2 separate regions of the Homo sapiens genome follow, and region 1 is linked to region 2. The links come from fine-mapping of genetic effects on gene expression. A gene starts in region 2. The other region holds a variant in brackets. All regions are shown on one strand. Distances are from middle to middle.

Evidence for each region. PIP is the estimated chance that this variant, and not a neighbour inherited with it, causes the effect. A credible set is the group of variants that fine-mapping cannot tell apart.
Region 1: its variant is the best candidate, but not a certain one, in a credible set for the expression of DCBLD1 in esophagus muscle (GTEx, PIP 0.54).

What each region holds. Positions count from the first base shown.
Region 1 is chr6:117,517,704-117,534,444 of GRCh38, forward strand. It overlaps DCBLD1 (discoidin, CUB and LCCL domain containing 1), which reads left to right. Exons shown (of 15, transcript NM_001366458.2): 3 at 2,113-2,247; 4 at 3,822-3,873; 5 at 7,659-7,731; 6 at 14,557-14,690. Among named protein-coding and RNA genes, the nearest start is that of DCBLD1, 43 kb to the left of the region's middle. The variant G/A (reference allele first, on the strand shown) is at 6,558.
Region 2 is chr6:117,474,975-117,491,715 of GRCh38, forward strand. DCBLD1 (discoidin, CUB and LCCL domain containing 1) reads left to right here and starts at 7,700. Exons shown (of 15, transcript NM_001366458.2): 1 at 7,700-7,919. The coding sequence starts at 7,808. RefSeq lists silencers at 3,168-3,217, 7,576-8,155 and enhancers at 8,516-8,595, 8,606-8,655, 8,686-8,735.

The sequences.
Region 1 (16,741 bases), 43 kb after region 2:
GGAAGCTGCCAAAGCTTGGGGCTTGCACCCTCTGAAGTCCTGGCCCGAGTTCTACGTTGTCCCCTTCCAGCCATAGCTGGAGCAGCTGGGACACAAGACACCAAGTTCCTAGGCTGCACACAGCACAGGGATGCTAGTCCTGGCCCAGGAAACCACTTTTTCCTCCTAGGCCTCTGGGTCTGTGATGGGAAGGGTTGCCTTGAAGACCTCTGACATGCCCTGGAGACATTTTCCACATTGTCTTGGGGATTAACATTCAGTTCTTCATTACTTATGTAAATTTCTGCAGCTGGCTTGAATTTCTCCTCAGAAAATGGGATTTTCTTTTCTATCGCACTGTCAGGCTGCAAATTTTCTGAACTTTTATGCTCTGCTTCCCTTATAAAACTGAATGCCTTTAACAGTACCCAAGTTACCTCGTGAATGCTTTCCTATTTAGAAATGTTTTCCACGTGATACCCTAAATCATCTCTCTCAAGTTCAAAGTTCCACAAATCTCTAAGGCAAGGGCAAAATGCCACCAGTCTCTTTGCTCAAACATAACAAGAGTCACCTTTGCTCCAGTTCCCAACCAGTTCTTCATTTCCATCTGAGACCACCTCAGCGTGGACATTATTGTCCATATCGCTATCAGCATTTTGGGCAAAACCATTCAACAAACCTCTAGGAAGTTCCAAACTTTCCCACATTTTCCTGTCTTCTTAGCCCTCCAAACTGTTCCAACCTCTGCCTGTTACCCAGTTCCAAAGTCACTTCCACATCTTCGGGTATCTTTTCAGCAGCACCCCACTCTACTGGCACCAACTTAACTGTATTAGTCCGTTTTCATGCTGCTGATAAGGACATACCTGAGACTGGGCAATTTACAAGAGAAAGGTTTAATTGGACTTACAGTCCCACATGGCTAGGAAAGCCTCAAATCATGGTAGAAGGCAAAAGACATGTCTCATATGGTGGCAGACAAAAGAAATGAGCTCGTGCAGGGGAACTCCTTTTTTAAAAAACCATCAGATCTCATGAGACTTATTCACTGTCATGAGAACAGCACGGGAAACACCTTCCCCCATGATTCAGTTACCTCCCACCAGGTCCCTCCCACAACACATGGGAATTCAAGATGAGATTTAGGTGGGGACACAGCAAAACCATATCAAGCAGTTTTGTCCCTATTGGTTCTGGTTAATATAACCCGGTTTTATTCGTATTGACTTGGAGCAGTCTTTTTCTTTTATTCTTCTTCCTTCATCATGATTGTTGTTGCCGCTGACTATTTCCATACTGTTTTTGAGAAAAGTTAATAAATAATACCTCTCTTCAAAATTTGCTTGCTAATCTCTATTTCATAGAGATTGTCTTGCGTATGTTACTTTCGAAATGACAAGTTAAAAGCTAAACTTCAGTTTGAGTAGTCTTAGGAAGAGTTTTCGTTATTTTAAGCTCCAAATGTAATTTTGCCCTTTGAAAGTTCATTGAGATCCCTATTGCTTTTCAAGCAACTTATTTTGGAAACAATGTTATACCCTTAATTGTATAATTTTGTACTATAATATTTCAAAATGCTTTAGAAATTATTCTGCTTTTATGTACATTTTATAAATCAAAATGAATTTTGGGGATTAACCAGAAGTTACTGTAAAGGAAAATCAGTGTGTATGCTGCATGTGAATGCTGCATGTGAATAAAATTCTTACCATGCTTTGCAAAGTCTTTTAACTTTAAAACTTCCCCGAAAAAATGATTTTTTTAGTTTATTTGAGCAAATTTAGGAGGCCCCTAGAATAACATTTTTGTAATAAAATTTTCTTTACTACCTAATGTGTTTGACCTTTGTCTTCTTTTTACAAAAAACAAAACCTATCTCTTGGGTTGCTCACAGTTAACTAGTTCCAGCCTATTGCTTGTCTAGAGTAAGCCACTTTCCCCCTTGGCTTAGTTCACAATCAGTCAGAAATTATCAGTCTGAGCGTCAAGCTAAATTTCAGTTGGTAAAGATTATAATCATACATATGTATTGTCTAGTAAATTTGGCCTTTCAAGGAAAAAAATGCCATATACCAGTCATTTGTGCTGGTATAAATTTTGAAATGTGCCACAAGTGTGCTTTGTTTTTAGGTCCATACTGTGGAAGTATGACTGTTCCCAAAGAACTCTTGTTGAACACAAGTGAAGTAACCGTCCGCTTTGAGAGTGGATCCCACATTTCTGGCCGGGGTTTTTTGCTGACCTATGCGAGCAGCGACCATCCAGGTATAACGGAAGAATCAACACAAATCTCTAAATGTTATCTGTCTAAGAATTCCTCTTGCCACTTATCCCCATCCCTGGACATAATTGTGGACTCAGATGCAGAATTAAGATATGAGGGAGAAGAGGAACATGGTATCTTTGTAAATGGTTAGGTCTGAACTGAATCATATTGCAGCACAGGTGTGTCCAATCTTTTGGCTTCCCTGGGCCACATTAGAAGAAGAATTGTCTTGGGGCCACACATAAAATACACTAACAATAGCTGATGAGCTAAAAAAAATTTGCAAAAAATTTTTATAATTATGTTTTACGAAACTTTAGGAATTTGTGTTGGGCTGCATCCAAGGCCATCCTGGGCTGCATGTGGCCCAAGGGGCATGGGTTGGACAAGCTTATTAGCATGTTAGATTGATCAGTTGACTTATATGGGATAGGATTCATCTCATTTTTCCTAAAAACCTTGGATAACACACTTTTGTGTTCCCCTCCTGACCCTTCGAAGTCTTCACTATTCTCTGGAGCCCTCCCCCATCCTCCTCCCTAGCTCAGGGGCAACGCTTTTCACCAGTGAGCCCCTCCGCAACACACGCCAGTACACCAGCACGGGAGGCATGCACAGTGTGTGTAGGATGAGGAAGTCAGTGTCACACAGTGTAATAACTTTAAAGCTGAAAACTTGTATGGGAGAGAAGGGAAGGGAAACACGAACACTGATGAGAGAGAGAAGCACGGGCTCCTGTCCTGGGCTCTTGTGCTTCAGAGTAATTCTGTGCAGCCCATACCAAATCTGCCTATGGTCATAGAGGTTTCTGCTGTCAGTCCTCTCTGGCAGAAAAGCTCTGGGAGTGAGGTGCGCCATTCATTTTCCTCTTAGCCAATCAGCTCTGACTAATCACAGCAGATGCCTGCATTGCCAGTGTTCACCATATATTGCTCCCAAAGAACTATTACAGTAAGTGTGGAATATTTTGGAAACCATACTATGTTGATCTAAATGCATCAAGGTCCACTGTATCTTAGCCTCTATTGCTGAATATTAGTTTGGTTCTGTAAATTACTCCAGAGAGCACCTTCTTTTTTAAAATGCTTTGTCCTGGTTGATGAAAGCTTATATGCTGTAGGTTTTCTTGGTAAAGATGTGCTTCTCTGTCACCAGATGCCACTGGCTAAATTGTTGAATTAAAATGTTTGTGGGAACCTTCTCTGTGAACTGTGTTGGGCTTTTGAAATTATTTTCTTCCTGCCAGGGGACATTATACACATGGTCTTCATAGGCATATAGTGGATAGCAACTAAAGAGTATTGTTTTTTTCTGTTAACTACAGATTCTGCTATCATTTACTAGGTGATTGTGTTGAAAAACTGTCATTGGTGGCAGAAAAAAGAAACGAAAGGAACTCATTAAATACTGGAGACAGTGATTCTCAGTGTTTATTTTTAAAAGGAAAATTCTGATAACTACATAGTGAATAAATGCTTTTTAAAAACTCTTTTATTTTAAAAGAAAGCTTTGCAGCATGAGTGTCCTAGTTTTTATTCATTCTATTAATTGCAATTATCTTTATTTATGACAGATTTAATAACATGTTTGGAACGAGCTAGCCATTATTTGAAGACAGAATACAGGTAAGTATAGGTATCCTAACTGTGTTGCAGTCGTGTATTGCTGAACATTTTGTTTTCTTTCACGTTAAACCAGATACGTTTGTACTTAAAGCTCTTTTTACCATTCATGTTGTAACTAATGAGGAATATTTGAAATAGTTTGTTATATAGCAGGAAGTCAGCAAACCTTTTCTGTCAAGGGGTAGATAATAAATATTTCAGGTTTTCCAGGCCATACAATCTCTGTTGCATTTATTCATATAATCTCTGTTGCTGTTGTAGCAAAAAAGCAACCATAGACACCATGTATACACTAACAGACATGCTGTGTTTCAATAAAACTGTATTTACCAAAACATCAGTAGGGCGGATTTGGCTCACAGGCCATAGTTTGCTGACCCCTGAGTTCCACTATAGGGCCAATGAATCATTACCGAGTCTAGACTGTATTTTTTTTCCTGGCTGGTATTTGGGAGTGACCTTTAAAATTCTTTCATTTGGGAGGAGGTGCATTTTGTCTTTACCACTAGAGAAAAACCTACTGCAAATAAGATGAAAATTTTCAACCCAGCTTTAGCTGGAAAAACTACTTAGTCACTTTGATGTACATTTGCTCATCTATCAAGTAAAACAGTCTAAAGCAGAATTTCTTAGCCTTGGCACTATTGATATTTTGGTCAGATAATTCTTTATATTGCAGGGCTGTCCTGTGCGTCGTTAGATACTTAGCAGCATCCCTGGCCTCTATGTCCTAGATGTCAGTTGTGATAACCAAGAATGTCTCCAGACATTGCCAAATGTCTCATGGTGGGCAGAATCGCCCCCAGTGGAGAGCCACTAGTCTAGAGATCATTGTCAACAACACTAACAAAAACTATGACTGTTTTTTTTTTTCTCTTTTTATGAAAGAGTGTCTTGCTCTTTTGCCCAGGCTGGAGTGCAGTGGTATAATTATAGCTCACTACAGCCTCAAACTCCAGGGCTCAAAGTATGCTCCTGCCTCAGCCTCCCAAGTAGCTGGGACGACAGGTGTGCACCATCATACCTGGCTAATTTTTAAATTTTTTTAGAAATGGGTGTCTTTCTATATTGTCCAAGCTGATCTCTAACTTCTGGACTCAGCTTCCCAAAGTGCTGGGATTACAAGTGTGAATCATGGCACCCAGCTATGACTCTCTAGAGTGCTTTCCTAGTGCTCGATATAGCTGTCTGCACTTAGCACAGAGTAAGTAGCTCTTGTGACCATTTCAACATGTCTGCAAGGAAGGTTCTGTTACATCCTAAAAACCAAAGTACAAACCAATTAAGACTTGCTGAGGGCTACACACCTCGTAAGTGTAGCCTGGGAGTCAGACTTAAGAGCCTGTGGTCCTATCTCAGACATTTGGACATTCTAATGAATGAGATTATTTTATGTGCAGAAACAACTCTAGTGTTAACTAATATTATGTCTAATAGGGGGAAAAATGAAAATGAGTGATAATTAAATATTGGTTTTAAAGTTACTGTTCATCCAATATACACATATGCCAGTATTATCTATTATAGCTATACCTCTACAGTCCCAGTTGGTGATAGGGCCTCTGGACATCAAATGGTCATTTCCTGTTCTCCTAAAGAAAGGGAATATATCCAAGCTTACAGGGTGGCATTATGGTGCCAGATTATCTCAGCTTTAGCCCAGCCATTTTGTAGTGTTTAGATTAAAGATAAGGCCTGGTGACTGATACAGGTCCACAAGCCCTCATCCATAATTATGAAGTATAGAAAGTTTTGAAAGCCTTTTGTAACTCATTTGGTGGTGATTCTTGATTAATGTGACCTTAAATTCGTTTGACAGCAAAATTGGACTAGATTAACATGTCTTTACATATGTTATTTAATATGATTATTAAGGCATTTGACACAAGTATTTTAATGTTTTTTATTAATGTGTGCAGACCCCACCAGCGTATTACATCATATACATCATTAGAACTGTTTTACTTTTCTAGAATCCAAGAAATTCTGAATTCTGAAATACAGCTGATTCTAAGGGAATTGGCTCTAGGGAATTGTTACCCTGTAATGGGAATTCCCATTATTTTTATTTCTTAATTCCGCGAGTACTGCTGCAATGCAGGGACTCCAAAAGGTCAATGGGAAAAAATTATGGAATATTTATTTGGATAGTTTTGATAATTAGTTGTTACATATATAATTTGCCAAGGCAGCAGGAGGACACTGAGAGGAAATGAAATAAAAACAACTTCTATTCTGGAATCTGTTTGGGCTGGTACACTCTTTTTAAACAAACCAAGTAAACATTATGTAAAGTGGTGTCTATATAGAAGTAAGGGCACATGGCATGCATCTTCAAAGCTGACAACATTTTTATAATACTTTGGCTTCCTTTTTGTGTGTTTTTTATAGATGTTTATAGCTGTCTTCATATCTTGTTGATATGTTGACACTTGAAGGGACTAGAGATGAAGAAACAATCTAAGAGAGATTATATGCAATATCAGGGTCCCACTGCTAGCTAGGTAGTGCTGGAGCCTGTGTCACTCTGCTCCTAACACTGACACCCTTCAGCTGCACCACATACTATGACATGTTTCTGGAAAGTTTCTTGAAAAATGACTGTTAAGTAAATTGAATCCTAATTTTTTTTTTTTTTTTGAGACGGAGTTTTGCTCTTGGTCCCCAGGCTGGAGTACAGTGGC[G/A]CAATCTGGTCTCACTGCAAACTCCGCCTCCCAGGTTCAAGTGATTCCCTCCTGCCTCAGCCTCCCAAGCAGCTGGGATTACAGGCGTCTGCCACCACACCGGGCTAATTTTTTTGTATTTTTAGTAGAGATGGGGTTTCACCATGTTGGCCAGTCTGATCTCAAACTCCAGACCTCAGGTTATCCACCCGCCTTGGCCTCCCAAAGTGCTGAGATTACAGGCGTGAGCCACTGTGTCCGGCCTTGGAATCCTAATTTTAAAATATATCCTTTTTTTCTGATTGCAAAAGTATTTCATAACTAATGTAGGCCAGACCATCTAATACGGTAGCCACTAGCCACGGGTACCTAATGAGCACTTGAACTGTGGTGAGTGCAAATTGAGGGGTGTTGTATAAAATGCACCCCAGATTTTGGAAGTTAAATCAAAAAAAGAGAAAATATCTTATTGGTATTTATTTCTGTTTATTACATTTAGAAATGATAAAATTTGAACATGCTGGATTAAATAGAATATATTATTAATTTTGCATATTTCTTTTTACTTTTTAAAAATGTGACTACTCGAATATTTAAATTTGTATATGTGGCTCCCATTATATTTCTATCAGACAGTGCTAATATTATGGCAATATTACAGTATGTATAACACGGAAAGTGAAAGTTCCTCACAATCCTACTCCCAGAGAGAATCTAGGGATATTCTTCTTTGTCTTTTTTATCCATAGAAAACAAAATTGTTACATATTTTAAACATTTCTTATAGAAACAAGATTATACTATATATAATGTTTAGAAATGTTCCTGTTTCTGAAAAATATTTATTGGAAGTCTTAGAATCAAGTAAAGTGCATTAGGGAAGCTCATTGTTTAATAGACTTTATGGTGAATCCTTATATAAAACTAATAATTATTGTATAAAAGTTGCCTTCAGATGAACATTATAGATCAATCTGTATTTTCACAAATCAGGTTTCTAATTTGCCATTAAAGCAAGATATTATATGGAGGGCAGAAAATACTTTAAAAATTTAAGTACAGTTTAATTTTTTTGGTTGTGTAATTTAATAAAATATAAATTATTTATTTTTCTTTTTCCAGCAAATTCTGCCCAGCTGGTTGTAGAGACGTAGCAGGAGACATTTCTGGGAATATGGTAGATGGATATAGAGATGTAAGTAATTGAGGGTAATGGCAGAGAATGAATTAAAAGGAGTAAGTGCTTTACTCTGCCTAAATTAATTACTGAGTAAAGTCAAATGAGATATAAAACTCTAGATAGATGCATGAGTCTCTCTCCTCTGAGAATAAATGAAATAAGTATAAAAACCAAGGTTACCCATGCATTCATTCCTATTAGCATTTCCAGCTAAGCTTACTATAAATGAAATGAAAAAACTTTGCCATCTCAGAGTATTATTCCATCCACTTTTTGTAAGAGGTTATAGATTTGCATCCTTTTTGTTATGGTTTATTTCTTTAACATTCCAACTGGTTCCTGTAATAGAGCAAAGGACATGAATATTCGTATCATAGAATAGTGACATTGTGTCTGGGGCCAGTGAAGCCATCCACCCTGCTCTTATTCGCCTTTCTCTTTGCAAACCAAGTTCTTATGTCCAGTAAGACTACCTGGGTTATGTAGTAATACATTGTTCCTGCATGTTGTATCTCAGATACATAATCCTCCACTTGTTTCTATTTACAGAAATCTAGTATCTGATTTTTTAAAAATTTACATTGCTATTTGAAGTAGTTGGGTTTATAGCCTAGCTTTTGGAAAGTGCCTGAGTTATTAGAAATCTATAGCAAAAACCTATTGTTGTGAAACTGTTCTTAAAGTTATTAACGTGTATTTTTATGCCTGTGGGAAAATAACCTTTATCTACTTGTTCTAGGTGATTGATAAATCCTCTGTGGCATAGGGAAAAAGTTTGACTGTGATTTTCTCTTTTAGCACATTCTGATTCTGGGAACAGCAGATTTTGTTATTTTGCCTTTCGTTCCCCTTTTCTGTTTTTTTATTTACAAGATTGACACTGGATACTCATTTGACCTATAAATTGACTCTTAAAATGTTTTACACTATTTCAGTTTGAAGATTTACTTGGCTCAGGCAATTCTTAAATGACTACAGGGAATTAAGAGAAATAAAAAGTTGACATTTTTTCCCAGCAATAGAAAGTTTTTATTTATCATTTTCCTGTTCTATGCAAGAAATGTAAGAATTATGTACAATAAGAGAAATAGCATAGTTTTTTCTTAATGTAGATATTTATCTTACCTCCTCCTGACAGAGCTATATTTTTTAGCATAACAGGTAAATGGTTTCCTGCATGGTAGATGGGAGTACATGATCCCTAAGTGCTGGCAAACAGGTTTCCTATTTGACCCACTAACTGATTTTGCACTATTTGCTTTTAGAATGATTTTATCTGCAAGGAAATTTTGTGTTTTGAAAGCTACTCTCTTCAAAGAACTCGGATTAGTGCCTTTTTTGTGTATGTCAATGTCATGGATGTATTAGATATTTATTGCTGCATAATAATATTACCATAAACTTAGAGGCTTAAAGTGGCACATATTTATTATCTCATTTTCTGTGGGTTAGGAGACTGGACATGGTTTAGCTGGGTTCTCTGCTTCAGGGTCTTATAAAGGTGCAACAAAGGTGTCAGCTGGGGCTGCAATCTCATTGGAGGCTCAGCTGGGGAAGGATCTGCTTCTAAGCTCATGTGGTGTTGACAGCATTCAGTTACTTGTGTGTTATTGGATTGAGGGCCTCGGTTTCTTCCTGGATTTTGGCTGGAGGCCATCCTCAGTTCTTGCCATGTGGACCTTCCCAACGTGGCCACTTGCATCCTCAAAGCAAACAAGGGAGAGTCTTTGAGCAAAGGGATCTCCTAGCAAGATAGATTACACTCTTATATAATGTTATCATGGGAGTGGTATCCCATCACTTTTGCCGTATTCTTATAGACTTAGAAGAAAATCTCAGCCCCCACCCACACTCAGGGGGATTCAGAGGGATTCCACAAGAGGGGATACAGGGAGCAGGGATCATGGGGGTTATCTTAGAGTCTGCCTCCACAGTGCCTTCATCTTGGGAAATGCGTTCAGTTGTAGCAAGTCTTTTCAGAAGAATCTTTGCAAAACCAAAGCATATCCTATAGGTCAGGATAACAGAATATGTAAAATAAATAACTAGAGGAGCTGTTGAAGAAGGAGGTACCCTGTCTCAGGGAAGAATATGTTGTCTTACAGAGCTATTATAGAAAAGGCATTGGTTTATTCTGTGTTGCTCCAAAAGGCAGAACTGGGATCAGTGGATAAAAGTTACAGGGATGCCAATTTCAGCTGCATATAAGGAATAATTGAACAATGCAAAATGGGATAGGCTGTCTCGAGAAACAGTGATTTCCTAGTCACTGAAAATGTCAGGTGTAGATGTTAAAACCATTTGTCAGGGATAGACTGTCTTTGTGTGGGAAAGGTGCTGTAGAGTGGAGATGGGGGTGGTCTGTCAGGAGGTGTGAGGGGGGAACTTTAAAGTCCTTTTTGAATTTTTGAGATTCTGTAATTCTGTCTCCTACTGACAAATTAAGGCATCCAAATTGGTGTATGTTTCCAATGCCAGTGAAGGAATATGGGCTTCTCTTAAGATCTGCCTCACCTGCCCCCAGAACAGTTTTTCTCTTGGCACCTTCTCCCCAGCCTGCTAACTAAACCATCTGTTTTTAAGCAGAACATATCACTTAATTAATTTGTTTCAGCAATTCTCCTCTCCCCAAAATGTTCAAGAAGTACTGTAAAATAGAGACAGTAAACATGTAGTGCGCTGCAGTTTAGGAGGAGAAGGGGAGAAACTGGGCCTCTTGTACACACCCAGAAAAAGCCAGAAGGAATACATTATAATGGCAAGTGATTATCTCTGGGTAATGACAATATGAGTGATTTTTTTTCATTATTTCCAGCATTTCTATAAAGAATGCACATTTTGTGAAGAAAACATTATTGACATGGTAATTAGGAGGACTGTAACAGCACAGAAATAATTCATATGATGGAAAGGGGAATATATTTGATAATTTAACATTTTGCTATCATTCCACCAACATTTTTAAGCATGTGTTTTATTCTACCTTACTGGTTTTGGTTCATGTTTTATTAAATGCAACCTAAAATGTTTACTTTTTTGTTACACTTCCTTTTAAAACATTGCCAACACTGTTTTAGTACAAGTTGATTTTTCCTAAAGGAAGAGTTAAGAAAATTCTGGGATGATTTGATAGTTGCTTGAAAGTTGTTTAGCCTTAGTTCACACTAATCTGTTTGGCCATCATTTATGGCTTAGTGAACTTCAGAAATGTTTATTGTAGATAATGCCATCCACCTGCAATTGCCTGAGGCATGAAGGTATTCTCTTCAGCTGGCCATTGCATTCCCTTTCCTAAAGAATTATTACATTTACATTATTCTGTTTAAGTATATTTTGTTTAAGATAATTTACTAATTAAAACCATTTGTCAGGGATAGCCGAACCTCTTAGAATCAAGTAAAATGCATTAGGGAAGCTCGTTGTTTTTTGTTTGTTTTTTGAGACAGAGTCTCGTTCTGTCACCCAGGCTGGAGTGCAGTGGTGTGATCTTGGCTCACTGCAAGCTCCACTTCCTGGGTTCACGCCATTCTCCTGCCTCAGCCTCATGAGTAGCTGGGACTACAGACGCCTGCCACCATGCCCGGCTAATTTTTTGTATTTTTAGTAGAGACGGGGTTTCACTGTGTTAGCCAGGATGGTCTCGACCTCCTGACCTTGTATCCACCTGCCTTGGCCTCCCAAAGTGCTGGGATTACAGGTGTGAGCCACTGTGCCCAGCCAGGAAGCTCATTGTTTAATAGACTTTATGGTGAATCCTTATATGAAACAAATAATTATTGTGTAAAAGTTGCCTTCAGATGAACATTGTAGATCAATCTATATTTTCACAAATCAGGTTTCTAATTTGCCGTTAAAGCAAGATATTATACGGAGGACAGAAAGTATTTAAGTACAGTTTAGTATTTTTGGTTGTGTAATTTAATAAAATATAAATTATTTATTTTTCTTTTTCCAGCAAATTCTGCCCAGCTGGTTGTAGAGACGTTCTGCTCTACAGAGCAGAATGTACATAGGCTAGGTACATATGCTAGGTAATATGTACCCATGTACATGGGTTAAGTAATATGGCTTTCCAATATTTACATTTCAGTGAGACTTAGACTTCAAAATAGCTAGAAAATAAAAGTATAAATTGTACCATCTGTTCAAAAGGGAATTTTCAAAAATCAGGTTCAATAAATGTGAATTTTAAAAATCAGTACCAAAAAAGTGACAAATAAACATCAATTTCCTTTAAGTTGGATGGATGAGGGAGTGACTATTTTAAAGAAAATAATCCTGGAAAATGCTGGTAATTTTATCATAATAATATGATAGTGAGACTTGATGGCTAGTCTTTTGGAGATGTATCCTATAGCCTACAATTAATATTAAAAGAAATGGCAAAACCCACAATTACTTTTGCATCAACCTATTATGGAAAGCCATAGCTGCAATTAAATAAAAATTTTATAAAAAAGGTATTCACCATTGAATTCCTTCAATACTGGGTACTGTGAGAAACGAGAATATTTGTTGGCCAATGATGCTGTTAGATCCTGTTGCTCGTTGGCCTGTGAACCTGTCATCTTACAGCCAAGGAGGCCCTGGGACATGCCAAGTCCAGTGAGAGCTCTCAATAGGCAGGGTTCCTAGTATGAAGACCGGGGATCCCAAGGACAGTGGGAATAGCTGCTCAGCAGACCACTGAACTGATCTGGTTTTCATTCTGGGGTTTAGCGAGGGAGACAGGCCTGCATGGGTCCTATAATATAAACGGTGTACTGGGTACCCTTTAGAATCACAAGGTGACAGACCTTCAGAAAAGACACTAGACCAGCAGTCCCGAACCTTTTTGGCAACAGGGACCACTTTTGTGAAAGACAGTTTTTCCACAGACGGGGTGGGGGATGGTTTCAGGATGAAAGTGTTCCACCTCAGATCACCAGGAATTAGATTCTCATAAGGAGCACACAGCCTAGATTCCTCACATGCGCAGTTGTCAGTAGGATTTGCACCCCTGTGAGAATCTAATGCCTTTGCTGATCTGACAAGAGGTAGAGCTCAGGCGGTAATGTGTGCTTGCCCACTCCTCACCTCCTGCTGTGTGGCCCGGTTCCTAACAGGCCACTGACCAGTACCAGTCCACAGCCTGGGGGCTTGGGGACCCATGCACTAGACAACATCCAGTCCAGGCTTGTCATTGTCCAGAGGAATGGGAAGCCAGGTCAAGAGCAGTGGAATGACTTGCATATACTTTGTGGAGTTAGAGGCAAAGCCAGGATGACAAGATAAATTGCTAAATTTAAATTCAGGACTTTTCCTCTTCAACTGGCTCCTCTGTTTTGTTTGGACCCAGGAGTCCAAACTGATGATAAGAAAGCTTTTTAATGAAAGAAAATTCAGGAACAATATACAGAAAATTCAGGAAAGATGAAAAAGCAACCTGCATTCTTATTAAAGAGTACGATCTTTACGATCTTTTTCTCTTCTAATTTTAATTCTTTTTTTCCTCCAAGATTAGGGAGGGTAGTATTTGCATCTGTTTCAGTATTCTCATTTTTTTTCTTTCTGTGGTGAAATCTTTCCTCTCTTTTGTTAGGATAGCAGTTATTGCAAAACTGACTCACTTTGCCAAACCTAATCTAGTTTGGGAAATATGAACTCTCTAAATTGAATATCACAAAATTCTCAACTTTATTGCAACTATATTGCAAAATATGATTTGTCTCATTAGTCCTTATACTGTTGTAACTTAAGTCTAAGGGAACTTTTCCATTGTAAATAAGGTAAGCAGCATTGTCATTAACAAAAAGAGAAATTCTTGAGTCCAGTTACTGAGATAAATTTCATGAGCTGCCTTTCTATGTTGGCATTAATAGTCATGAAGAAGTGGAGCATAGCTAAGGTTTATTTAGGAAATTATGTTTCTTATCCCCTCACTCCTGGGTCTGAGTGCCTTAACACTCTTCCACAGAGGTCTACACTTGGGGACCCACAGGCCTGGGCACCCCATAGAAAGTTCTAGTCGTTTCTGTAGCGCCACTTCCTGACAGAGCCGATTCCAATCCCACAACCGCCTGTAAATCAGAGCCAGTCTGCTGTTCCTGCTGCATCTGTCAGAACAGCCAGCAGCCTGCTGAGACCTCACACTGAACATCGCAGGGCTGAGCTGGCACTGGCTTTTTGATGCCTCCTGAGGGGATTCAGGAAGTGAGATGGAGGCTGTCAGCCCTGAGTTGCTCATCATCCCTCTAGGAACTTCGTTAAGCTTTCTGTTCCATTTAATGTTCTGTGGCTGTCATTACCATTGTGGTTTTGGTACCTTGATAAATCTCTAATTTAAAAATGAACATGTGGAATTGAAAGTTCAGCTTCTTAAATGATAACTTGGCATGTGTGTCTAATAGCCTAAGTATAAGAAACTGGATCTGTTATCGATTTCTGCTTAACAAGCCACTCCAAAACTTAGTGGCTTAAAGTAGCAGCCATTTTATTTACTGATGAGTTTGAGGGTGAGCAATTTGCCTCCACCCACACTGGATTGGATTAGTAAGCTCCCTTAGCCTGGAATCACTCTTGTGGCTGCCATCATATGGCAGGTTAACTGGGGCTCAAGAGTCTAAGGTGGCTTCACTCACATGTGTAGCAGTTAGCTAGGCCCTGTTATCTGCAGCAGAACAAAGCAAGTCACATGGTCCAGAGTCAGTGAGGGAGGTGACAACTCCAGGGCATGGCCATTGGAAGGCTTTATTCATTGGGGCCACTACTATAAATTACCACAGAAACAAAATAGAAAACTCCAACTATATTTTAACTGTGTTCTTTTAAGTTCTGCATAATGATGTTGCTGTGTTTCAGACCTCTTTATTGTGCAAAGCTGCCATCCATGCAGGAATAATTGCTGATGAACTAGGTGGCCAGATCAGTGTGCTTCAGCGCAAAGGGATCAGTCGATATGAAGGGATTCTGGCCAATGGTGTTCTTTCGAGGGAGTAAGTATTTTTTTTCAGTATCGTTTGTTCTGAGTAGAAGGTAACCCTGAAGGATAATTAACCAGCTCACAACTTTGAAAAGACAGCAGGGATGTGATAGCAAGGGTTTGTCAACTGGAAAAATATGCATGAGTGCTTAGAGCAGCATTTCTGGTCTCTGCATGGATGATAAATGTAGCAATCAGAAAGCTCACTGGTTATGCTGACATGTAAATTAAAATGGCACACTCTGAAGCCCTGGGGCAGAGGAGTGTTTTTACTCTCAGGTGCTTTTGTGGGAGAAAATAAAGGCTTAATCCTTTTTGGGTTTTTACAGCTTCTATAAGTTACTGGTTGTCTCCAATGTTATCATCATCTGAAACCCTTACAGAACCACTGAGCTCCCTAGAACACTCCTAGAGACAGTTGTTTAGTGATGAGTTTGGGAAGTGAAGAAAGATGGCCTTTGTTAACACTGTTTAAAAAGATGGCCTTTGTTAACGTTATATTCTTCGTTTGTTTTTATCCTGTGCTCTTTTAGCTTCATGAGAAAAAAAATGTGTTAAGTGCTTTAAATGGTTCAACTTAATCTTTTCATATTTTCAGATTTCCTCAGCCATTAGAAGGTGTAAAACTAGAGCTGTGTAGAACTCAGTGTCAGCCTACCCTGTGGTCCAGACGTCCACACATATAAACAGGCAGTTCAGAATGGCCAAGTGGGAGACACTCCTGGAGTGGAAACCTAGTGAGAGAAAAGTGCTCCTTGAGCCACTGTATTTCTCTCTCTCATTCTCTCCTTCTGCCTTCTGCAACTGTTTTTTGGACAGGTTTTCATATGGCCTGGGTTCCAAGAATAAGGCACAAGACAGAGGTTTTAGGCGTTTTGGGATCCAGAAGTGGGGGAAAAAATGTCAGGACCTATATATTCTATCACTCATTAATCTGTATGACATTCTCCCCCTGCCCTTGCTATTTTGTCCTAGCCCCCTCTTGCATCAGAAGGAACATGGTCGTATTTTGCTGTTCCATTTTCACAATGGATGATGGGCCATCTTATCTTGGATAGGTTCTCAAGTTAGTCGGCATAGATATGGTGACTCTGATGTTATTTTGATAATTGTTTAGTAGTATTTTCCTTCCCCCTCCTACTTTTTATTTAAGTGTATTTTAGTTAGCAATGTCATAGGTCAAATAGGTATCCTGACCACAAGTTATAACATTGCTTTTATTGGAAAATGTGTCTTAAGTTCTGAAGAACCGACTTACGAACTCACATATAAACTTTGGGACTAACACCCATTTTATGATTGAGGTTGTTGGCCCATGTTCATAGGCAGTGGCATTTAGAAGCAGTAACTGAAGTTAAGGGAGATTACAGGGTTAGAGTCAAGACTGAGGAGCAATGTTAGAGAGGGGTGGTGGTGGCCATCAGCACACCATGCTCACGGCCAGGAGGCTGGCTGGTGGGTGTCTGTGGAGAAAAGGCAGAGCCTCTCACTGGCAATTCTGAGTTCAGGGGTCGGGGTGAGAGTAACTAGAGAAGATGTTCCAACATAACTCTTTCACAAGCAATGCAAGTAGTACTGTACGTAATCCACAAAAGACTTCCATCCACCAAGGACAGCAGTGCATGCCGTGCACTTGGACATGCAGGCTTACCTCATGATATTTGTGTTCTCTGCCTACCATAACCCTCCCATTTACTTTCCCCTTCTGGATAGATTTTTAGCTATGAGAGGACACAAAGTATTCTTTTCATATTGCCTGAACATTCAAAGACAAATTAGTCTCTAAATTTGTGCCAAGGTTTAAGATCCAAAGGTTTAGTAACAGTATGCTATTAGAAATTAAAATCTTCACTCAATAAAATTATACATATATACACACACATATATATAACATTTTTCACATAAATATTTGCCACATACTTTTCAGAACATTAAATTTTATTTTAAAGTTTACATCCTGATTTATAGTAAAAGTGATCACTTATGCACAGTAAACCTTTAAATGCCAACTTGAACTTGACTTTTGAGAATGTATTCCTTTTTATGTTTTTTGATGGTTTCTTC
Region 2 (16,741 bases):
ATTCTTTACCTATCACACGTCAGGAACCCTGTACAGGGACTGTGTAGACAAGGTATGAGGCCAGTTTTCCCAAGGGACTTTTATTGGCTCTGTAAGTCAAGTTACACTCCTTAAAGGAAAACACATAATTCCAGTTAAAGCCTTGGTAAAATAACGAGTTTCTCCAATTGCATCCTGTTGCAAAAGAAAACATTCTTATTGCACTTATGCAAATAATTATATTTCCATAAGTTAAGGATATTCACAAATAGTCTTCAAATTCTGGAAAAATCAGGTAGAGAGAAACAAATATGCTCCAAATTTTGCTCATGGGAGTATACTTTATTCAATTGCTAAAAGCTGCCAATAGCTCAAAAGTTCTCTTGACTCTGAAAAACAAAACCAAGGATCTACAATATTTTAAGCAAAAAGTTAAAAAAAAAATACTTCAGCCTTCTACATGTTCAGTCCATGAATATTCATGAACATTCCAGCTCTCCATGAAAGTCCTGGAAGTTTTTCCTCTATTCTAATGTCACAGTCTCCAAAGTTATCAGAAACCTGCATTCAAGAGCACCTGTCAAAGTCCTATAGCTGACTATAAACTATCTTTTGAAGAGAATCCAAACAAGACAATAACTGTCTGTGGATGACAAAAAGTCCTAGGACAGCCATTATTAAAACCACAACTGACTAGAAATTTTGGTTACTTCTGTGGCATAAAACAGTTTTATGTAACAATGATAATTATTAATAACATAGACTAAGTCCTATCAGAATTATAGGAGTTTCCCATAATTTTGGAACACATAGCAGTAACATATTTATGCAATACAACTCAAAGAAAGCCAAACACCATTTCATATTTAACAATGCTTCCTGTATGATTTTTATACCAAATAAGCCAAATGTCATTTTTGGACAGTGACCCCCTAATATCTAAAAGATTAATTGCATCAGAAAAAGTCACAATTTACAATTTGATTTTGGAAAGTTTCTCAAATATCAAATCCTAGGTTACCAAAAGTCACTCATTTAGCTAAAATGGGAGCTCAAAAAAAAATTTTTTTTTGAGTTGGAGTTTCACTCTTGTTGCCCAGGCTGGAGTGCAGTGGCACGATCTCGGCTCACTGCAACCTCCGCCTCCCAGGTTCAAGTGATTCTCCTGCCTCAGCCTCTTGAGTAGCTGGGATTACAGGTGTCTGCCACCATGCCTGGCTAATTTTTGTATTTTTAGTAGAGACAGGTTTCACCATGTTGGCCAGGTTGGTCTTGAACTCCTGATGTCAGGTGATCTGCCTGCCTCGGCCTCCCAAAGTGCTGGGATTACAGGCCTGAGCCACTGCGCCGGGCCACAAAAATTTTTAAAAGACAAAAACGTTTACTCATCAATAGAGGGAAAACTTAACTTTCCAAACAATCTGTCTCTTTCTTTTTTTCTACAGTTTATTCAAAAGGGTAGACAAAAAACTTTCTTTTTTTAAAATATTACATGAAAATCTTGTTCAAGAGAGAGAGCCAAATTTACCCTTGCCTTAGTGCACTATTGATGTCAAACCTAATTCTTAATAAAACCTTATAAACAAATCTATCCAATCTTAATCATTATGACCATAACACTAAGATTCTTATAAACCTTTTCTAATCCTTTACAATTTTTGTGACAGAGCAGACTAGTGTTGTAAGAAAAAACCTGTTGTGCTTTTATTCCAATGTTCAATTTATGAAAAAACTAAATAATACTCCTTTAACTTTTAGCTAATATGTTCATATACAGAATTTCTTTTACAAGATTAATTTTTCACAAACATTCCACAACTTGCCCAAATCTTCAGCTTTTTCCTATCTAACTTAAAACAATCCTTTAACCTTTTAATCTAGGCAAAAAATCCACATTCCCATGGTTTCTTATATAATCTTTACCAAAAACACATTTCACTTTCCTTACACAACTTGCATGTAAAACTGTTTTTATTTCCCAAAGATTACTTAAGTTATGTGAACTAAAAGGCATTACACTTCTTACTTTTCTGACGAAATGTTTGGTTTAAGCACTTATTATTTTTTAAGCCAATTAATTAGAGCTCCTGTATATATAAACATCACATGCACAACACAGATAAATAGAAGAAGATCTACTAGTTGTAAGATTTTTCATTTGCCCGTGTTTCTTAATTGAATTACTGGCTTCAGGGTGGAACAGGGACAGGAAAACAGGCAGTTTCTACAGCCTAATAAGCAGGCACAGCTGGAAGGCAAAACAGATTCCCCTAAAATTAAGGGTCCCATTTTATACCAGATCCTGGATCCCCAAAATGAGAAACACTATGGAAAAAGACAGTACAGTGATTTTACTGTGCATTTCATTGCAAAGCAATCTAAAGCCAATCAGTCCATTCTGTGATTAGCCCATCCCTCATAGGAGTCTTATCTCTGGGTGTGTGGGGGCTGGGGAGACACATCTGCATACCTTCCAGGTGGCCAAGAGCATACTTCTCCAATCCAAACACCAAAGAGTCAAGTATTCGCCCATAACTGCCATTAGCCTTTCCTAAAAGTATATTTCCTACCTAGTTATTATACACAAAGTAGTTTTTGATACCCAAGAGTCAAAACATCAGATAACACAATGTAATGCAAAACAGAACAGAGCCTAAGATTTTGAGAGAGATCTATCCACTTTCAATTACTGATTTCTCTGAGGAAAACAGAGGTTTTTCCCAGTGCTGGATCTGGGGCATCTCCTCTGTTTTTCCCAAGGAGTCCCAGGCTGTTAGAACTTGAATATCCACTTTCAATTAAGTGGACTTTTCACCATAGCACTCTTTTTTTTTTTAAAGTCCTTTTAAATCTCTTACTACCACCTTTAGCCATGCCAAACTGCCAATATTTCTGGCTTTTGAACTTTACCAAAAATAATCTCACAGGTGAAACCCATAAGCCTTAACTATTAAGCTACAACATTGGGAAGTTTCCATTGCACTTCCCAGAAGGAGTCTAGAGCAACCAATTTTGAGTTTGCAAAGGCATAAATTTTGGGAATAACTATGACATGAACCCCCAAATTCCTGCTCCCTGGATGGCAGAGACCAAGAGAAAGTACTGCCACATGGTTACAAGGTCAAGCTCCCAAGGACATTTTTCAACATGTGGTCTCTGGGCAAGATGAAAGAGTGAACAGTTAACCTAACAGAAAAGTTAGAAAAGAGAAAGAAGAGAAAGAGAAACACAATTAGGAAACAGCTGTCCTGGGGTTGTCATAAGAACCAACTCAGATCAAGTATATGAAACTTCTTCAAAAACTACTTCTTGAAATGACACAAATGTATCGCATGTAGTACAGAGGCAACTAGAATTTAAAAATAGGGCTGGCCCTGGAAAGTGATACCGTAAATTAGTGAATAATGAATCAAACACAATGACGGAATAAGGGAGAAAGCCTGGATAGGAGAGGCATGCTTGCCTCAATAGCATGCCTAAAGAAGGAATCGTAGGACAATGGTAAGTTTTATCAGAAATGAAAATTAGAGAAAGGCCACTTTGGGAGGAAAGTGTTGACTGTGCCCTGCTGAGCTCTGCCACAGGGAGGGAGGGGTCTGACCTTTGTAGCCTAGCTGTTTAGTGCTTGTGGCAAAAATATCCACATGGGGGTGACAAAGACTCTCTGTGACCAAACAGTCAAGCTCCCCTGAGCCTTCTTTTTATCTAGGCATTGTCCTTGAACCCTGTCTTTGGCCTGCCTAGTCCAGCTTTAGCAAGAATTCTGCTAAGTTAGTTCAGAGAGAATACCCCACCCTCTGTATTGGATCAAGTTTCTCCTCCCTTATCTTTGACATATAAGTCCTTGACCTGCATTCAGCAAGAATCCCATTAAGCCAGTTTACAAGAATCCCCTCTACCCCGATGTCTCCTCCTAGTGATTTTTCATCATGGACTCCCTCACCCTGCCCACTGGATTCACTGAATCCCTGAATTCAAAGTTGAGCCTGATTGCTCCTCTATTGCCGTAATCTTGACACCTATTACAATGCAAATCTGAACAAGTTTCTACACTTTCCCTGCTTCCCACTACCCCCCAGAACCCTGAGATCCTGCTTCTGCCTCCCACTCTGTATTCAGGCTCAAGTTCACTGATAATGTAGGCTCAATCTTTTTTTTTTTTTTTTTTTTTTGAGGCAGAGTCTCGCTCCCGCTCTTCGCCCAGGCTGGAGTATGATGGCATGATCTCGGCTCACTGCAACCTCTGCCTCCTGGGTTCAAGTGATTCTCCTGCCTCAATCTCTTGAGTAGCTGGGATTACAGGCACCCACCACCATGCCTGGCTAATTTTTGTATTTTTAGTAGAGATGGGGTTTCTCCATGCTGGCCAGGCTGGTCTCAAACTCCTGACCTCAGGTGATCCACCTGCCTTGGCCTTCCAAAGTGCTGGGATTACAGGTGTGAGCCACTGTGCCTGGCCAGGTTCAATCTTCATAAGCACCCTGTGATCTCTGTTTCTGAGCTTTAAAAATAATATCTTTTCCTTGTCTGACAAACATTGTTTTCCTTCTAATTAATATCTTCACCTCTCCCAGGCCCTGCCAGACTTTTAAAATCCAGGTTATATGCCCTTCTTCTGTGATTCCATGGTACCCTGTACCTCTGCTATCCCTGTGCCTATCAATCGATATAATTCATTTTGTCTGTATAATTAACTTTCCCAAATTTTTATTATTAGATCATAAATCAGGAAGAGAAGGTATTTATTTTTATTGTACTGCTGTCACATTGTTTCACATATGGAAAATGTCTAAAACATTGGGAATTACAATTGAACTTGAGATTTGGGTGGGGACACAGATTGAAACCATATCAGACATCTATAAGGGCTTCAATTTTATAGCTGATAGTTTTCTTCATAGAGTCACAGGCAGGGTTACTAAATGTTAAGGATAAATTGAATTAGGTCATTGAACTGGACTACAATCTATTTTGAAGCTGTCTGTTTAGAATCATGCTAGGTTTGCAGTTCTGTTTAAATTCTGTCTTACCTAAGCAAGACAGAACACATAATTTATAATATAAAATAAGGCAGCTCCTGACCAGCTGTTATGTATTTTTACAGAAGAGCTGGCAAATGTAAGCATAAATTGCAGTAAGATATGCAAAATAAGGACTGGATGGCAAGTGGGGGGATGGGTTAGAAGTGCAATAGCCTATGAGAGACACTTCCCTAGAGATATTTCCCATCTTAGTATGTGAAATGTTTATAGGTAGATCCTAATAAGCATAATTTTTCTTAATGGAACTTGGTTCTTAGATTCCATCATGCATCATTTTAAAAAATCAAAGTGGAATCGTCTCAAGATTAAAACAAGTATATTAATTCAACAAGGCTTATTTCATTGTATAGAAAAATATACTGTAGTTCCAGCTACTCAGAAGGCTGCGGCAGGAGGACTGAGACCAGGAGCTGGAAGCTGTAGTGCACTGTGATCAGGCCTGTGAATAGACACTGCACTCCAGCTGGGCAACATGGTAAGACCCTTTCTCTAAAAATGATACATACATATACATATACATGTATACACACACACACCCCAGTATATATATTTTATAATCTGTTGTATTTTCACTTTTTTCTTTTATTATGACTTTCTTAACTAGAGATTTTACATTTCAAGGAAGGAATGGCATGATGAAATCAATAGGATCTGGCTGGTCTTTCTGTTTCTTCATTGTTACCAGATCCTAAATCTTTCCCCTTATCTGGCTCAGGATTCAGGTGTACAGCAGATAATTCCATTCCCATCAAGGTACTGACTGAAGTTAAAAAAAAAAAAAAGTCACCCCTGAAAGCCCACCTGCCTCACATTATGAATTCCTCACTGTTAAACAATACTCCCCATTGTCTTTGCTTCATTCATAGCTCACAGTGTCAAACCTGTTGGAGCCTGGAAGCAGCTGCCCAAACTCACTTAGAAAGAATGAAGAGAAATAAGAAAAAGCGAAAACTGAAGTTAGGAGGAGACTCAACGTATCAAAGTATCGTTCTGTGTTTTTGAGTGTAAGAATACTCAATATTTTTATGGGTGTGAATTTACTTTCTGTTAAAAAATGATAAAACCTACCGTTTATTAGGTACTTTCTCTACATGCTAGAACCCAATATACACATTCAGTTAGGTACTTTCTCTACATGATAGAACTTAATATACAAATTCAGTATACACTGAATATACACATATATACCCAGTTTGATTCTGGACCTCAGCTCTTCAACAAAGCTGAGGTCCAGAATCAAACCGGGATCCCCTCCATTTCTAAAGCCCAAGTTCTTTCATCTAAGATATGCTGCCTCAGAGAAAGCAAAGCCCCAAAGACAATCTCATTTGAGATTTTATCAGCTTGTTTATTTAGTTAAAAAAAGAAAAGGAAGAGGAAAAAAGGAACGCATGTATGAAATGAGTCTGTCCAGGGTATCCAAAGATCACGAGGGGCCAATGTTTGCCATTGGAGGGGCTGTTGCTTCCTCTCCGCCTCCACGCTTCCCTGCGCTGCACCTCTAGGTGAAACTTCAGCGTGCCGCGCGGTGGTGCGAAGGTGAGGGCAGCGCGCAGAGGAAGTAAACGGGGACTACAGGGGACCAGAGACGTGAGATAGTCCTTAAAATACATATCTAATCTGTCCTCGTCATTTTCCACTGCCACCACCCTATTCAACTACTCGGTGATAACCCTGTAATTCTCCAGTCTCCAATCTGTCCTCCCCAAACCCTTCTCCGCAACTCCTCAAGAGGATCATCGGGTGGAGTCCTTCCCCCTTCTGAACCTTCCGTGGCTGCTCACTACTCCGAGGACCAAGTTAAACATCCTTTAGGTTATTTAGCTGCACGTCCTGGCCCCTACTCTGTACACTAGCTTCTACATCTGGCCGTGTACCCACCTGTTCACTGTGCTCCAGCTACCTGGCCCTTTCCTCCTTCAGCTTCTTTGCACAACTTGTCTGTTTTGGCTCCTGCTTTAATCTCAGCTTTGATGCCACTTAGGCCTTTCCTAGCTGATTCCCGCCCTCACCCCTGTTACCCGCCATCTAATTACAGCTCTCTAAATGTGCTTCAACAGCACCTTTCATGTCACTGATTGCAATTTGCATTGAATACTTGCCTGATTATTTTTGTCTGCAAGTGCCACATGGGTTTAGCCCTGCTCCTGACAAGCACACTGCTGAACTGAGTAACTTTTGAATGAATGAATGAATGAGTGAATAAATCAGTGAAGGTCCTACTTGGCACTGTCATCATCCTATCATCAAAATATTTCGAGTCCCTCGGTGTTGCTATCCCTGGCATGCCCATCCCCGCGGGCTGGCAAAACCCTGGAGGGGGCAGCCTCCCAAGGCACCGCCGCGGGCTCAGCCCATCTAGGAATGACTCCCGCACCACGCGGCGAGGGGCGGGTCCGGCGGCGAGGTGTCCTGCTGCCTAGCAGGTTCACGTGTACTGGTGCAGGTGGGGAGGAAGGCAAGGAAGGAGCGCAGCAGGGCGCGCCAGATACGTGGAGGGGAGCGCGGGCGGCGCCTCGCTCGCCTCCGGCTTCGCCGTCGGTCACTGCCTGGGAACGCGACTTCCTCCTCTAGGGGCCGACGTGCGGGGCGGGGCGGGGCCGGGCGGGAGACGCCCCCGCAGGGCTGGGCTGAAAGCCGCCCCAATGGGATTCGGTGCGGGGCAGCGACTGCGCCCCGTCCCGGCGCCGCGCTCGTCCGCAGAGGAGGCGGCCCGGCCCGGGCAGCTGCGGCTCGGGATCCGTCGAGGGGAGGCCGAGCTTGCCAAGCTGGCGCCCAGCGGGGTCATGGTGCCCGGCGCCCGCGGCGGCGGCGCACTGGCGCGGGCTGCCGGGCGGGGCCTCCTGGCTTTGCTGCTCGCGGTCTCCGCCCCGCTCCGGCTGCAGGCGGAGGAGCTGGGTGAGTGGAGCGCGTCCGGCTGGCGGCGGGACCCGAGGCGCCAGGGGCGGGCTGAGGGCTGCGGGGCGGGCCGGGCCGGGCCGAGGGCTACGGGGCGGGCCGGGCCTGGGGGGACGGAGCGCGGGAGGAAGTCGGGCTCGCCGCCTGCCATCCGCGGAGTCCGGCTCTACCCGCGGGGCTGGGGGTGAAGTAGGTTACTGCATTCCTTGTCGCTCCCCCACCAAACTCCTTCCTTCCCCCAAAACCAGAGAATTAACCTGGCGTCTCTGCACTTTCTCTCCGCCGCCCCCCAGCCCATTTCACTTAGTTTCCAGACTTCCTGACTCTGCTGGCCCCGTGAGAAGTGACCTGACCCCGAGGGTCGCCTTAGGGGACAGCCGTGTGCAGGGCCAGTTCTTTCCAGCTGCCTTTTGACAAAGCCGCTCCTCGGCCGGCGCTGGGCCCTGCCCTCCCTGCCGTCGCTCCTCCCGCGCGGAATTGGAATCCCGGCGTGTGCGTTCGGGGCTCGTGCGGAATGGCCGGGGCACGTTTGCCGAGGTTGGCCTTGGACGCTGGCGAGCAGGCGGTGCTGCCACCTCCTCTCGAGTGTCCTGCTGGCGCCGCAAGTTGGAATCGTGTGGCTTCCTGTGTATTTGAGCCGGTAGACTCTCAACCAGGCTGCTTTTTCTCTGGAGCTGGTCTTTGACTTGGAGTTAGACCTAATTAACCCACAACCGAGTTTACCCTCTGCCTGTCCAGCATATTAAAGCAGCAACCCCCTTTACCAGCCCTGGGTGTCCCTATTTCATTCGTCCTCATTAATTAGTGCTTTTTTTTTTTTAATAGCAAGGGCCAGCTTTCTGCCGAGTTGTTTCAGTGTTTCCTCTCCTCCCTTGCTCCTGGCCGTATATGCCTGAGCTTATTTAATGGCGCTGAGTCTATCCGGAGTACTTTGACAGCTCCCCCAACCACCATGCTTTCTGGTGAAACAAGAATCAAAACTAAAACCAATGCCGGCATTTTTTTCACTGAACTATGCCTCCATTCTGAAACATTGATACTCGAGATGGTGGTGGTGGTTCCTAAGTTTATATTACATACCAGTTTGTTTAAAAAAACAAAATCCCCAAAACCCTAAAGTGATTTTGTCTGGTACTGTAGCACAATACTAGGCAGATTGTAAAATTGTAATAAATACGTAAGATTTTGTTAAATGCGTAGGACTTTTATAATGGATGTTTTAAATATTTTTATTTTTTTCTCAACTCACAGTTTGAAGGTGCACCTTTAATACTATACGTCTGTGAGAATCAGTCCAGCAGTATGTTCCTGTACTAATCTGGCCAAAGCTGTCACTTATCTTTCCCAATAAAGATTTAGATTTTGTATGGTCATCCAGGCTGTTAACTGGGCACTTTGTGAGAGCGGTTCTCTAGGAACAAGTGTGATTGCTTAGATTCTTTTTAAAAACCTATTATCATTATTGTTATTTTTGAGACAGTGTCTCACTCTGTCGCCCAGGCTGCAGTGCAGTGGCACGATCTCAGCTCACTGCAGCCTCAACCTCCTGGGCTCAAGCAATCCTCCCACCTCAGCCTCCTGAGTAGCTGACACTACAGGTGCATCCCACCACACCTGGCTAATTTTTGTATATTTTGTAGAGACAGGGTTTAGCCATATTACGCAGGCTGGTTTTGAACTCCTGAGCTCAAGTGATCCACCCACCCCGGCCTCCCAAGGTGCTGGGACTACAGGCATGTGTGGTTGCTTAGATTCTTACTGGGCTTCAAATCTTTATAATTTTATAATGTTAGGGTTGTGATAAAATGCTACCATCTGTGTTATAGGCAATTTCGTATTAGACTTTTATTTATTGTGTGGTTTTAGGAAACAAATGGTATAACTTAACCTGAATGTTTATAAGCCTAATCAATACAATTAATTAATTTTTTGTGTGTCAGAGTCTGGTGACCCCATAAAGCTATACTGGGTCCTTTGTAGGGCAACTGCTTGCCTATCTGGTGTTTTTCTTGAATTAAAGTTTTAAAAAAGTGTCCACCCCTCCCGTTGTTTGCAGCCAGCCAGGTCCAGGCATTGGGGTTTAGTGGCCAGAGCTGGGATTATTTCGGCTCCTTATGCCCTGTTCTTCTGGATCCGTTTAACTAAAGGTACATATTTACATAGATTGTTTCACATAATTTTGACCTTTCATAATAAGACATTAAGTTGATCATTAGTTTTTATTCCACTTGTATAAATTCGTAGGTTTGGATTTAGTCCAAATTTATTACCTTGATATACATTTTTGTAGAATAAAATACCCTTCATTTGTGTAATGAATTTGTGCAACCTAAAACTCCCTGCTTCTCTCTCCACCACAAGATTTGCAAATGGTTATTAGCTAAAGTATTCCCTTGTGATTTAAGTGAAGAATCAAAATGAGCGCTTGATCTCTGAGGAAACTTCCAAGTGTAGATTCAAATCTTGCATACTTAAGAATTGCTTCAAAACCCTCTGCCCAACTCTTAATTTGTTATTTAGAAGGTCTGCTGTTAAATCATCTGTCATTTATTTTGGGTTAGACATAGGATCAGCTGATAGATGATGTTTTAGGTGAGTGGCTTTTTTAAAAATCAGCACAAATTTATTCTGTCACCTTCTGTACCAGTGTGTGCACTCACCCTTCTGTTGTCTCATCTGGACAGCTAGCCTTGTAGACTGTAAGATCCTGAGGGCAGAGACTGGGACTATATAGTCTTTGTCTTCCTAGTATCTGACAAAGGTGCTCAGTGTTCCTTGAGTTGAACTGAACAATCTCTTTGTGTTTAGGATATATTTTCAAATGACTTCCTAACTAATGGAAACCAAGTAATAAAGAGCCTACTGACATTCTTTATAAAGGTGTACATCTGCTGCTTCTACTAATTAATTTTGTTTATCAAGCCCAGCTCTCTTGGCATGCTTATTTCTATATGTAAGGATGCCTTTTAAATGAAAATACAGCAGAAAGAAGGGAACATGCCAGCAGAACAATATGTACAATATCTTTTGGCTCTAGTAGATATAATTTGTAACACTCAGAAACAGTGAGTTATATATTAATATTTCAGAGAAGAAAGAGGTTATGTTAAAAAATTCATTAAACAAATCAAATGGTATGTTTAAAGCAGAATTTGAACTCTGAATAATGTCCCAAACTGTTTTTATTAACTTTTCATGTTACAATTTGAACCCTTTAACCTTGTGGAACTGACACAGACTTGAAAATCATTTTAAAAAACCACAGCTTGGAAATTAGTAAGGCATCTGACATTTATGAGGAATTATGTCTTATTTTTAAGATACATGGGGGCATGAATTTAATTGCAGCATTTAGCAAAGGTTTTAGTTGTGTTAAAGCAGGGAAAAAAAGTTTGTTCTGGGAAATATACCCCATAGTGTTTACACCTATTTCTACATGTGTCTTAAAGCATAAAGTCAACTCTGTACGTATTAGAGCAATTAGTTGTTTTTCTTTATTAAAACAAATCAATAAATGTTAGCTATCTTAGTATTCATTACTGTTTATTACTATTGATTTGACAAATATTGAGGACTCTTTGTTCTGTCTCCTCCACTGCCTCTCTGACTTCATTCCCTGAAATGCTCCCCCATACTCAGGCCTCTCTAGCTGTTTGGTTTTTTTGCTATTTCTCCAAAATGACAAGCACTGTTCTACCTCAGAACCTTTGCACATGCTGTTCTCTGCCTGGAATAGTCTTGCCCCAAATATCCACAAAGCTTGCTCCTCCTTCAGTGTTTGTTTAGATGTTGTCCTCTCAGGGAGAACTTTCCTAAGCACTTGAAACCCTCTCTTCATTCCCAGAACTCCATATTCCCCTTCTTAGCTTTCAGTTTTCTCTAGAGCAGGGATCCCTAAGCCCTGGGCTGCAGACTGGTACCTGTCACTGGCCCGTTAGGAGCCGGGCCACACAGCAGGATGTGAGCAACAGGTAATGGAGCATTACCGCCTGAGTTCGCCTCCTGTCAGATCAGCCGGGCATTAGATTCTCATTGGAGCTTGAACTCTATTGTGAACTGCATGTTTGAGGCATCTAGATTGCCACGCTCCTTATGAGAATCTAATGCCTGATGATCTGAGGTGCAGCAGTTTCATCTAGAAACCATCCCCCTCCAACCCAGCCCCATACACGGAAAAATTGTCCTTCACGAAACCCGTCCCTGTTGCCAAAAAGGTTGGTGACCACTGCTCTGGAGCACTTACCCTCTTCCAACAAAGTGTATAATTTACACTTTAAATTGACTGCCTTCCTCCTACTAGATTATAAGGTCTATGAGTTTTGTGCCTTGAACAGTGGCCATATTGGGAGCTCAATAGGGGATGGGTGCTTAGTGAGGATGGGGTGAGAAGGCAGTGAAAACACAATTCCTGCCCTGTAAGACTCAACCTCACTCTAGTTACGAAATCAAAACTGGCCAGAGGTGGCTCACACCTGTAATCCCAGCACTTTGGGTGGTTGAGGCAGGCGGATCACTTGAGCTCAGGAGTTTGAGACAGCCTGAGCAACATAGCGAAATCCCATCTCTAGCGAAAATACAATAAAACTAGCCAGGTGTCGTGGTGTCCTGTGGTCTCGGCTACTCGGGATGCTGAGGTGGGAGGATCTCTTGAGCCTGGGAGACAGTGGTTGCAGTGAGCTGAGATTGAGCCACTGTACTCCAGCCTGGGCAACAGAGCAAGACCCAGTCTCAAATAAAAAAAGAAAAGAAATTAAAACCTGGACACGGCAAAGTAATGAAATTGTATGTCTAATCCAATGTTGAATGTAAAAGTCTGAAAGTACGTATGTAAAATAGAGAAATTCATTCTGGCATATTAGAAATTTGGCATTGAGGGTGAAGGGAAAAATACAGCCAGAATTTCAGATTTTTTTTTTTTTCATTAGACTGAGGAGTAGTTTTGCCTTTTTCCAAACTGAGGAGTCATGTGGATGTTATCTTCCAGATGTTTATTGTCTGCTTTGTATGTTAAAAAAAATAGTTGTTTGCCTTACTGGGTGAGGGAGACTTAGTTTATGGGAAAAATAAAGCAAACGCATGTGATGACTTCTTACCCGATGTGGAAATAGAGTCGTGACTGTGAGCGCTGGTATGCTGAATCTAGAACCAACTGTCAAACTTGCCTTTCAATGGGAGTTGAAGAGGAGGGGTTTTGTGGGATTGTGGGGTAAGCATTGGAGGATTCCCTAAGATCCATGAAAGCAGAGATGAATCTCAGCCTCTTCTTTCACCGCTAGCACCCAGTACGGTGCCTGGCACATAGCAGGCTCCGGGTAACTACTAGTTCCTGAGTCAGCGCATGAATGCTGTGGTTGAGGTTTGAAAAAATTGAAAGGAGGATAATATTCATGTTATTTTAAACAGAAATTGTATATATGACTATTGTGGAGCGTTAGGAAACACTGTGCAGGTATTTAAGAAAATAACTAGGCCGGGCAGGGCGGCTGACTCCTGTAATCCCAGTACTTTGGGAGGCTGAGGTGGACAGATCACTTGAGTCCAGGAGTTCCAGACCAGCCTGGGCAACATGGCGAAACCCCCGACTCTACAAAAAATACAAAAATTTGCCGGGCGTGGTGGCACATGCCTGTAATCCCAGCTACTAGGGAAGCTGAGGTGGGAGGATCCCTTGAGCCCAGGAGGCAGCTGTTGCAGTGAGCTGTGATGCTGCCACCGTACTCCAGCCTGGGCAACAGAGTGAGACCTTGTCTCAAAAAGAAAATAACTAAATTCAACTCTGAAAAGAACCGGGAATCTCTGAGACCCTTTTACAGGCAACAGCAGGAAAACTGCCATGAGTGAGGGGCCGGCAGTCTTGAGCAAATGATCCACTGATTTAGACCGGGGGTCCCCTATGGTCTGCTAATGCTTATACATTTAGGGTATCAGGGGCCTACTTCACCTCAAACATCATTTGGGGACAGTGTCTAGGCATTTGTGACATCAGCACTGTGTTAAGCCATATTGTCGTGTATGACTTTACTGTTTACTGCCATTTCTACTTGATTTATTAATCTCGTTATTAGCTATTTCCTTAGGAGCTACATGCTGTGTAATAATATACCCAATATTTGCAGAAATGCCTTGTGTCTTGTATATAATTATATATGATTGTATTAGTCTGTTCTGTGTTGCTGTAAGGGAATATCTGAGGCTGGGAAATTTATAAAGAAGATAGGTGTATTTGGCTCAAGTTTCTGCAGGCTGTACAGGCATAGCATAAGCGTCTGCTCAGCCTCTGGTGAGGGCCTCAGGAAGCTTGCGGTCATGACAGAAGGTGAAGGAGAAGCATGTGCATCACATAGTGAGAGACAGAGCAAGAGACATGCTCTTAACCATCCAGCTCTTGTGTGAAGTAGTAGCAAGAACTCACTTATCACCAAGGGGATGGTGCCAAGCCATTCATGAGGGATCTGTCCCTATGATCCAATACCTCTCACCAGGCCCCACCTCCAGCATTGGGGATCATATTCCAACATGAGATCTGGAGGGGACAAAACATCCAAACCATATCAACAATAATTTTAGGCTAGGTAGATTTTTTTGTAGGAAAAGCTGCAAAGGATAATACTGAAATGAGGTAACAGCTTAAGTAGCTCTGTGTTACCCCCATACCACCCCCCTTTTAAAAATAGAGCTGTGCTTGAGCTTTTTTAAAAAACAAAAAAGAGGCCGGGCGCCGTGGCTCATGCCTGTAATCCCAGCACTTTGGGAGGCCGAGGCGGGTGGATCACAAGGTCAGGAGATCAAGACCATCATGGTCTAACTCGGTGAAACCCCGTCTCTACTAAAAATACAAAAAATTAGCCGGGCGTGGTGGCGGGTGCCTGTGGTCCCAGCTACTTGGGAGGCTGAGGCAGGAGAATGGCGTGAACCCGGGAGGCGGAGCTTGCAGTGAGCGGAGATCACGCCCCTGCACTCCAGCCTGGGTGACAGAGCGAGACTCCGTCTCAAAAAAAAAGAATAAATTTCTCTTAGGTTGGAGCTTTCTTCCCTACTTTCCCAATGATCTTCCCTAATGCTTACAACAGAAGCAGAACAGTTGTGAAACAAAGTAGGGTGTCCATAAATAACATTGTCCTGATATATCATAATCATGGAAAATGCTACACATAGAACCATTGAGGACATGTTTTAGTTCTATATATTTTTATGTAAATGCACACACACACACACACACACACACACACACCCCTATAGCAAATACATGTGTGTACACACACATTTACTATTGTTTTTATTAAATATTGTGTAGACACAAAATTATAGACTATAAATAAAGGTATAAAGAACAACAATAAAACTAATACCTGGGTTCCCCCCTCTGCTCCCTAGTCTGTGTATGCTTTTATATTCTGATTTTTTAAATCTGTGTTTCATTGAAAGTTTTTTATTACTTGGAAAAATTCCATATTTATATTTATTTTAGAATTTGCCTTGAAGTAAACCAAAAACTTATTTCTAAGTCATTTATTGCTACTGAGAAATATCTAATAGGAAAGTGGAATTTTTGTCCAGGCCAACTTATAATTGATGTGTCTCGTCAATGTTTTTGTTTTATATTATTCAAATTACTCTCTCTTACTAATGGAGTCAAATAATTTGCCTATACATACTTTATTTGAGAAAAGTACATAAGTTTAAACATACTAAGTATCAGAAAGGTAAGGTGTATTTTTTTAATCCTTCTTTGGTGAGATTCTTAATTTGTATTGAATGGATCAGGCTTGTTCATTATTAGACTATTTGGAGTTTATTGAGACCCAAGTTAGTTTTTATAGTCAGCATCTTCAAACTCAAATTATAACCGCTGTTGTGGCCTTCTTATTCAGTGTTCAACATATTTACATTTACTGAAAAAGAATAGTCTTTGTTTTCTTTCTTCACAAAATTAAAATCCTTGCAAACTAATAATATGTATAGCTCCATTTTTGCATTTGAGCATGTTTAGTGATTGTGCTTAAAGGTTGAGTGTAAATGATTTTTAAGAAGCACGGTATTCTTGAAAAACAAAGGAAAGAAAAACTTTATTTCACTATTATTTCTGACAAAAAACAAGACAAAAGGATATTAAAAGTGTGATGTCCAGTTAAATTTGAATTACCAAGGCATAAAATTTCCTACAGGGAAAATAGATAAACATCTATGTGTTTGTTGCCTAACTTTTAAATGGCTGAGTGGATTTAATTCAGCCTTTTTATTGCTTTTCACAAAAGCAAGTTTACCTCATATTAAAATGTGGTTGATTTCAGCCCAAAAGAGAAAACTGTAGAGGCTTAATGACCCATGGGACCACTGGAACATGAGATTCATATATTTGAATTGCTTCCATTCTGAGGATTTTAGAATGGAGGCTGCTTATTTTGAGAATAAAATGAACCAAGGTTTGCCCCCATTCCGCCCACCATTTTTTTGGGATCCCTGGAAAGCTCCTGCTTTGCCAAGAGACTAAAATAGGAGATGGCCTATTGCAGACAGAAAAATGGCCCTGTACCTACTGTCACTGCCAGCTCAGAAGGGTCTACAAGTCTTTTGAGACTTCAAAATCTATTAATAAACTAAAAATTTATTAAGGATTTCTTGACTTTTTTCCTATTTCATTTGAATCTCTAAATATTTTCTTGCATAGCCACAATGTTATGAGCACACCTAAGAAAACTAATAGTTTTTCTTTAATATCATCTAATACTCAAGTCATATTCAAATTTCCCAAGCTATCCTAAACATGTCTTCTAACCTTTGGTTTGTACAAAGATCCAAACAAGGTCTACATATTAGTTATT